2 linked regions of the Homo sapiens genome follow. The protein of the gene in region 1 purifies or fractionates together with the protein of each later gene. This does not show direct contact. Each region holds a gene or a part of one and is shown on either strand. Other genes may lie near its edges.

Evidence for each region. Proteins that work in one complex are often made in the same cells at the same time.
Region 2: the proteins of LRRTM1 (region 1) and PNPLA6 purify together in Homo sapiens (affinity purification with mass spectrometry; 2 studies listed by BioGRID and IntAct, with this or other methods). This does not show direct contact.

The regions. Positions count from the first base shown.
Region 1 is NC_000002.12:80,301,279-80,307,037, reverse strand, and holds LRRTM1 (leucine-rich repeat transmembrane neuronal protein 1 precursor), read left to right. Parts: upstream 1-2,285; 5' UTR 2,286-2,886; exon of another isoform or gene 2,887-3,042; intron 3,043-3,159; 5' UTR 3,160-3,218; coding exon 3,219-4,787; 3' UTR 4,788-5,160; downstream 5,161-5,759. UniProt on the Homo sapiens protein: Exhibits strong synaptogenic activity, restricted to excitatory presynaptic differentiation, acting at both pre- and postsynaptic level.
Region 2 is NC_000019.10:7,545,717-7,549,216, forward strand, and holds part of PNPLA6 (patatin-like phospholipase domain-containing protein 6), read left to right. Parts: intron 1-3,500. UniProt on the Homo sapiens protein: Phospholipase B that deacylates intracellular phosphatidylcholine (PtdCho), generating glycerophosphocholine (GroPtdCho). This deacylation occurs at both sn-2 and sn-1 positions of PtdCho.

The sequences.
Region 1 (5,759 bases):
ATTTTAATTACAGCCTAGGAGCATCTTGTAAGTTTTGAGTAGCACACTTAGAAGAAAACTCACATATAAATCAGTGAATTTAATTTTATTCCCTTTCTTTCTTGCCAACACTCAACTCTTCTGCCTCTCTGCACCAGCTCTACAAATCAAGTGACATCCAAAGTGGGACCTCTTCTTGCCCATTTGGCAGCCTCTGTCACCACTTTGCCAAGCAGCCAGCATTAGGAGGATTTTTTTTTTTCCTAGCAACCCTAGGGATTGGGTGGTGTGTACTCACAGTACTCGCTGAATGGCTGGCCGCTGTTTAACCCTGCGGGTGCCTCCTCAACACCCCTCCCCCACCTCCCAACCCTTTAGAGTTTATGGCTCCATCAGCTGGCCTGCTGTCACGAATAATTGTCTTGGCAAGAGGTGAAACCACTTGATGGTGAATTTGTTTGTCTGTCTGTTAAAGTGTTCCGCAGCACCTTGGAGGTGCCAGGATGAAACATGCAAATGCCTGATCCAGAGTTAGGTAGGCAGCAAGAGTGACAGAGAGGCAATCATCAAGAATGGCAAATTAAGAAAGAAAGAAAGAGAGAGAGAGAAAGAAAGAAAGAAAGAAAGAAAGAAAGAAAGAAAGAAAGAAAGAAAGAAAAGAAAAGAAAAGAAAAGAAAAGAAAGAAAGAAAGAAAAAACCATCTGTGCCAGTTGCAAGCTGTATGACCTTGGATAAACCATGATGTCTCTTGGCCTCAGTTTAGTCACGTGCAAAATTAAGGGGGTTGATTTTCTAATGTCTCTTCTAACTCCTAAGACAGCATGTGATGTCTAGGACATTTCAGATTTGTGTTCCTTCCAATTAAATGATACATCTCAGAGATGAATGACCAGGGCAGAGCTCAGATGAATACAAAATGGAATGATTCATGCCCCTGTTCATATGACTTTTCCTGAAAAGTACCACCAGTCTTTGGTGACTTTGATTCCATTGGTTGGCCTCTTCAGCTTAGATGCTAAGGACCAATCCAGTTACTTGTCCAGTCTATCTACCCTGGCTCTGGTAATCCACCCTCATTCCTATCAAAGTAAGTGCCACTACATATAATGCCTACTGATTTTGACTTCCTTAGAGGCAGAAACGATGGGAATTCAAACAGTGGAGCTGGAGACTCACATTTGACTCTCCCTACCATCTCCCTGGGCATCTTTGTCAAGAAGGAAGGCTTGCCCACACTCACTTCCCGCAGGCTTTCTCAGCCATCTTGGAGGACTTTGTTTAAACAGATGACCAACTGACCCTCCCCAGGGCAGACCCTCTACAGACCAGTAGGCACAAGGTGTGTGTGTGGGGAGGTGGGGGGAGAGCTCATTGTAAGGACTCCTATCTATAAATGATTATGAATAGAAATAATGAGGCAAAGGCTTCTCGTCATACTCAGAGGAAAAAGTGGCACAACTTAGTGCAGTCTCAAAGATTAATTAGGATGTGTGTATGGAGACGGGTAGGCTTCATTATGGCTTAAACTATCACGTCCCTACACATTCACACTCTCTTGGAGTGGGGTGCACTGCAGGGCCCAGTAATCACCATGAACAGCACAAGTCAGGGTAAGCCCTCCCCATGTCAGACAGTACAATCGTTCTTTAATCCACTCTGTACCCCATATGTATCTGTGGAGCCTGATGAAGCCCCGGAGGGATCTCAGTCAAGTCTCCCTGCACACAGACATACCTTTTTGCCACACTGGATCTCACACCACCGGGACTTGGATGGCTTCCCAAACTAGGTGGGTTTGGAAAGCATTTCCCCTCTCCACCTCAAAAAAGGGCTGGCTGACTGCAGAATTCCAGTACCCGCAAGAGGGGGAAAAAACCCCAAAAATCTTAGCCAAGCCCCAAATCATTGCCTTCCTGTGTCTTCTCTCAAGTTGCTTTTCTAAAGCAAAGGTCCAAACGTTGATTTCTCTACAGATTCCTACGTATCTCTTACACGTAGACAGTTTTAAAGGGGAAAAGAATATATCCCCAAAAGGCAAGGGGGAGAGCACAGAACATTTCAGTTTCCCACTTGGAAATATCTTGTCGTGGATGATGCTACCCCTACCTCCACCTCCCTCCCCCCTCCTTTTTTTTTTTTTTTTTTTTTTTGAAATATGGACAAAAAAGCTGAAAGTGTTTTCCGTTTCATCAAAAAACATATATTACTTTAGTGGTTCGGTAAAATGTTGGTTTTATGCCCACCCCTTTTCAATCTGCCCATGTCTGAGGTGCTCGGGGAAGACGCACAATCGTGAGCAGCTTACGACACTCAGTGAGCAGTAGGTGCCTGTGCAAGCTCGCGCCGCACACTGCCTGGTGGAGGGAAGGAGCCCGGGCGCCGCTCGCCGCTCCCCGCGCCGCCGTCCGCACCTCCCCACCGCCCGCCGCCCGCCGCCCGCCGCCCGCAAAGCATGAGTGAGCCCGCTCTCTGCAGCTGCCCGGGGCGCGAATGGCAGGCTGTTTCCGCGGAGTAAAAGGTGGCGCCGGTCAGTGGTCGTTTCCAATGACGGACATTAACCAGACTGTCAGATCCTGGGGAGTCGCGAGCCCCGAGTTTGGAGTTTTTTCCCCCCACAACGTCACAGTCCGAACTGCAGAGGGAAAGGAAGGCGGCAGGAAGGCGAAGCTCGGGCTCCGGCACGTAGTTGGGAAACTTGCGGGTCCTAGAAGTCGCCTCCCCGCCTTGCCGGCCGCCCTTGCAGCCCCGAGCCGAGCAGCAAAGTGAGACATTGTGCGCCTGCCAGATCCGCCGGCCGCGGACCGGGGCTGCCTCGGAAACACAGAGGGGTCTTCTCTCGCCCTGCATATAATTAGCCTGCACACAAAGGGAGCAGCTGAATGGAGGTTGTCACTCTCTGGAAAAGGGTGGGTAAGACACTTTTTAATTAAATTCTTTCCCGAAGATTTTTTTTTTCCTCCCTTTTCTTTGCTGCAGCATCTAACATGGACCAAATCACCATCTCTTTGATCTTTCCGTGGCTGTGAACTTTCTATGCTGCCCAGCTTTCTGCATGCTTAGAGGTGAACGTGTGGTTTTTGGGGAGGGGGGTCCTTCTTTATTTCTATGTATTTATTTGATTTTTTGCCCTTTTCTCCCCCTCCCCCGCTTCCCCTCCCTCGGAATAAAATATGATGTAGATTTCTGACCGAGCGCTTCCAATGGACATTCTCCAGTCTCTCTGGAAAGATTCTCGCTAATGGATTTCCTGCTGCTCGGTCTCTGTCTATACTGGCTGCTGAGGAGGCCCTCGGGGGTGGTCTTGTGTCTGCTGGGGGCCTGCTTTCAGATGCTGCCCGCCGCCCCCAGCGGGTGCCCGCAGCTGTGCCGGTGCGAGGGGCGGCTGCTGTACTGCGAGGCGCTCAACCTCACCGAGGCGCCCCACAACCTGTCCGGCCTGCTGGGCTTGTCCCTGCGCTACAACAGCCTCTCGGAGCTGCGCGCCGGCCAGTTCACGGGGTTAATGCAGCTCACGTGGCTCTATCTGGATCACAATCACATCTGCTCCGTGCAGGGGGACGCCTTTCAGAAACTGCGCCGAGTTAAGGAACTCACGCTGAGTTCCAACCAGATCACCCAACTGCCCAACACCACCTTCCGGCCCATGCCCAACCTGCGCAGCGTGGACCTCTCGTACAACAAGCTGCAGGCGCTCGCGCCCGACCTCTTCCACGGGCTGCGGAAGCTCACCACGCTGCATATGCGGGCCAACGCCATCCAGTTTGTGCCCGTGCGCATCTTCCAGGACTGCCGCAGCCTCAAGTTTCTCGACATCGGATACAATCAGCTCAAGAGTCTGGCGCGCAACTCTTTCGCCGGCTTGTTTAAGCTCACCGAGCTGCACCTCGAGCACAACGACTTGGTCAAGGTGAACTTCGCCCACTTCCCGCGCCTCATCTCCCTGCACTCGCTCTGCCTGCGGAGGAACAAGGTGGCCATTGTGGTCAGCTCGCTGGACTGGGTTTGGAACCTGGAGAAAATGGACTTGTCGGGCAACGAGATCGAGTACATGGAGCCCCATGTGTTCGAGACCGTGCCGCACCTGCAGTCCCTGCAGCTGGACTCCAACCGCCTCACCTACATCGAGCCCCGGATCCTCAACTCTTGGAAGTCCCTGACAAGCATCACCCTGGCCGGGAACCTGTGGGATTGCGGGCGCAACGTGTGTGCCCTAGCCTCGTGGCTCAACAACTTCCAGGGGCGCTACGATGGCAACTTGCAGTGCGCCAGCCCGGAGTACGCACAGGGCGAGGACGTCCTGGACGCCGTGTACGCCTTCCACCTGTGCGAGGATGGGGCCGAGCCCACCAGCGGCCACCTGCTCTCGGCCGTCACCAACCGCAGTGATCTGGGGCCCCCTGCCAGCTCGGCCACCACGCTCGCGGACGGCGGGGAGGGGCAGCACGACGGCACATTCGAGCCTGCCACCGTGGCTCTTCCAGGCGGCGAGCACGCCGAGAACGCCGTGCAGATCCACAAGGTGGTCACGGGCACCATGGCCCTCATCTTCTCCTTCCTCATCGTGGTCCTGGTGCTCTACGTGTCCTGGAAGTGTTTCCCAGCCAGCCTCAGGCAGCTCAGACAGTGCTTTGTCACGCAGCGCAGGAAGCAAAAGCAGAAACAGACCATGCATCAGATGGCTGCCATGTCTGCCCAGGAATACTACGTTGATTACAAACCGAACCACATTGAGGGAGCCCTGGTGATCATCAACGAGTATGGCTCGTGTACCTGCCACCAGCAGCCCGCGAGGGAATGCGAGGTGTGATTGTCCCAGTGGCTCTCAACCCATGCGCTACCAAATACGCCTGGGCAGCCGGGACGGGCCGGCGGGCACCAGGCTGGGGTCTCCTTGTCTGTGCTCTGATATGCTCCTTGACTGAAACTTTAAGGGGATCTCTCCCAGAGACTTGACATTTTAGCTTTATTGTGTCTTAAAAACAAAAGCGAATTAAAACACAACAAAAAACCCCACCCCACAACCTTCAGGACAGTCTATCTTAAATTTCATATGAGAACTCCTTCCTCCCTTTGAAGATCTGTCCATATTCAGGAATCTGAGAGTGTAAAAAAGGTACCAATCATTGATTTTTTTTTTTTTTGTAAACTAAAATGTTTAAAATAAAATAGCATTTACAGTTTTTACAGACTGGTGTAACCTAAATGAATTGTTACCTGTGTTACAAGAAAAGCAACAGTTAAAATTTCCTTGGTGGGTGGGGAGGGAGTTGTCCAGGGGCCAGAAGGAAAATCCAGGAGCAACGTAGTCAGATTCAATTTGAAATTTTAAAGAAGGGCAAAGAAAGCTTATCAGATTAATGATTTATGTTAATTTACTCCACATGTGTAAGGACTAGAAAAAGAAAAACTGCAAGACCCTTTATATTACTGGGGCAGGGACAGTGCAATCTAACCACCTTCAGGCAACTGAGAGGTGGACTGAGGACTGGGCACCCTTACTCAGCCTTTAAAGCAGAGAGCATTGCAAATGGTTTTTAAAAAGCAATGCCAGACAGTTTCTCCTAGGAACACGAAACATTTTTGCACTTAATGTAACCATCTTTCAAATCACCTCAAAATCTCATCCCCAAATGCCACCTGTTCTTAATTCTCCTGAGTCTTTGATTCACCAGACTTAGTAGCATTTGTGCCCTTCTTGTACCCCCTGTTAAAGGGAGCCCCTCAGCTCACTGCTCTCTTTGGTCTGGCTGAGGGGAAGGAGGCAGAATCCCGATGTTTA
Region 2 (3,500 bases), on another chromosome or scaffold:
TCCTGGCCAACATGGTGAAACCCCATTTCTACTAAAAATTCAAAAATTAGTCAGGCACGATGGCGGGCGCCTCTAGTCCCAGCTACTCGGGAGCCTGAGGCAGGAGAATCACTTGAACCCAGGAGACAGGTTGCAGTGAGCTGAGATCGCACCCCTGCACTCCAGCCTGTGCAACAGAGTGAGACCCTGTCTCAAAAAAAAAAAAAAAAAAAAAGTGGGCAGGGAAAACCCTTAGTGGTCCCTGCCCTTGGGCAGCCCACCGTATTCTGAGAGACATGACTCAAAGGATTACACAAATTCTTGTAAAATCATAAGTGCTTAGTGTCACAAAGGAAATGATCTTGGCACTACAAAGTCTGGCTTAGACAGGGTGGCACCTCTAAGGGCATGACCTAAGAAGGAAGGAGGGGGAGGAACAAACTGGGTGCAGGTGGGAGGAAAGGTCATTCTAGGCAGAAGGAAGAGCTTGTGCAAATGTTGTGTGGTGGGAAGAAATAGGTTGATCTCTAAGAAATAAAAAAGGAAGTCAGTGGGCCTCAAGTGAAACAATATTTTTTGGGGGGGTGTAATGGTTTTATTGAGCTATAATTCATGTACTATACAATTTACCCATTTAAAGTATATACTTTAGGCTGGGCACAGTGGCTCACGCCTGTAATCCCAGCACTTTGGAAGGCCGCGGCGGGAGGATCTCTTGAGTCCAGGAGTTCGAGACCAGCCTGGGCATCATGGCAAAACCCAGTCTCTACAAAAAACAAACAAAAAAAATTAGCCAGGCATGGTGGCGCATGCCTGTAGTCCCAGCTACACGGGAAGCTGAGGCAGGCATAAGCCACTGCACCTGGCCATGCCCACCTAATTTTTGTATTTGTAGTAGAGACAGGGTTTCGCCATGTTGGCCAGGATGGTCTTGAACTCCTGACCTGAGGTGATCCGCCTGCCTCACCCTCCTAAAGTGCTGGAATTACAGGCATGAGCCACTGCACCCGGCCTTATGTAAGGGCTTCTGTGTAGACATATATTTTATTTATTTTTTTAAAGGTGGGGTCTCACTATGTTTCCCAGGCTGGTCTTAAACTCCTGGGCTCAAGTGATCCTCCCACCTTGGCCTCCCAAAGTGCTTGGACATATGTTTTCATTTCTCTTGGGTATATACCTAGGAGTTGAATTGCTGGGTTATAAGCCAATTCAATTTTTTTTTTTTTTAAGAGGGAGTCTCGCTATGTCGCCCAGGCTGGAGTGCAGTGGCGCGATCTCAGCTCACTGCAACCTCTGCCTCCTAGGTTCAAGCAGTTCTCCTGTCTCAGCCTCCTGAGTAGCTGGGATTACAGGCACACGCTGCCACGCCCAGCTAATTTTTGTATTTTTAGTAGAAACACGGTTTCACCATATTGGTCAGGCTGGTCTTGAACTCCTGACCTCAAGTGATCCATCCACCTCAGCTTCCCAAAGTGCTGGGATTACAGATGTGAGCCACCATGGCCAGCCTCTATTTTTAATTTTTTTAAGCACTGTGTGTTTGTTTGTTTCTTTGCTAGACTGTTTTCCAAAGCAGCGGCACCATTTTACATTTCCACTGACAGTGTATGTGAATTCCAGTCTCTCTACATTCTCTCTAACCCTTTGTAATTCTAGCCATCTTTGTGGGTGTGAAGTGTAGTATGTCATTGTGGTTTTGCTTTGCATTTCTCTAATGACTTGACGTTGAACAGCTTTTTATGTGCCTATTGGCCATTTGTATATCTTCTTTGGAGAAGTTTTTATTCAGATCTTTTGCCCATTTTACTCTTACTTTTTTTAGAGACGGGGGTCTCACTATGTTGCCCAGGCTGGTCTCCAACTCCTGGGCTGAAACTATCAAGCGATCCTTCTGCCTTGGCCTCCCAAAATGCTGGGATTGCAGGCGTGAGCCACCGCACTTGGCCTTTAATTTATTTTAGAGACGGGGTCTTGCACTGTAGCCTAGGCTGGAGTGTAGTGACGCTATCATAGCTCACTGCAACCTCAAACATCTAGGCTCAAGCAATCCTCCTGCCTCAGCCTCCAGAGTAGCCAGGACTATAGACACATGCTACCATGCCTGGCTAATTAAAAATTTTTTTTTTTTTTTTTTTTTTTTTTTTTTTTGTAGAGACAGGGTTTCACTATGTTGCCCAGGCTGGTCTTGAACTCCTGGGCTCAAGCGATCTTCACACCTAGGCCTCTCAAAGTTCTGGGATTACAGTTGTGGGCCACCACACCCAGCCCCTTCAGTATACTTTAAATCAGGGGTGTCCAATCTTTTGGCTTCCCTGGGCCACATTGGAAGAATTGTCTTGGACCACACATAAAATACACTAACAGTTATAGCTGGGCATAGTGGCACACACCTGTAATCCCAGCACTTTGAGAGGCCAAGGCGGTTGGATCACTGAGGTCAGGAGTTCAAGACCAGCCTGGCCAACATGGTGAAACCCCGTCTCTACTAAAAATACAAAAATTAGCCAGGCGTGTGGCAGGCACCTTTAATCTCAGCTACTTGGGAGGCTGAGGCAGGAGAATCACTTGAACTCTGGAGGCAGAGGTTGCAGTGAGCCGAGTTTGTATCACTGCACTCCAGCCTGGGCAACAGAGCAAGACACCGTCTCAAAACCAACAAACCAAAAAACCCCACTAAAGATAGCTGATGAGCTAAAAGAAAAAAAATCGCAAAAAAAAAAAAAAAATCTCATAATGTTTTAACAAAGTTTATGAATTTGTGTTGGGCCAAATTCGAAGCCATCCTGGGCCACGTGCAGCCCGTGGGCAGCAGGGTGGACAAGCTTGCTTTAAATCATCTCGAGATTACTTATAATACCTAATACAATGTAAATGCTATGTAAATAGTCATTATACTGTATTATTTAGGGAAAAACGGGGAAAATAGTCTGTAAATGGTCTGCGCAGGTGCAATTTTTTTTTCCTGAATATTTTAGATCCAAGGTTGGTTGAATCCTGGGTATATGGAACATATATATATATATACACACACATATATATACACACATATATATATAGAGAGAGAGATGCTGCTCATCTATATATAATCTATGTAAAAAAATTTTTCTTTTTTTTTTTTTTTTTTTGAGACGGAGTCTCGCTCAGTCGCCCAGGCTGGAGTGCAGTGGCGCGATCTCGGCTCACTGCAAGCTCCTCCTCCCGGGTTCACGCCATTTTCCTGCCTCAGACTCCCAAGTAGCTGGGACTACAGGCGCCCGCCACCACGCCTGGCTAATTTTTTGTACTTTTAGTAGAGACGTGGTTTCACCGTGTTAGCCAGGATGGTCTCGATCTCCTGACCTCGTGATCCGCCTGCCTCAGGCCTCCCAAAGTGTTGGGATTACAGGCATGAGCCATCGCGCCCGGCTAAAAAATATTTTTATATTTATTTATATTTATATATAGATGGTGCTTATATCCAAAGTCTTTATTCTCTCCTTCATGTTTCTTTTTTTTCTTTTTTTTTTTTTGAGACGGAGTCT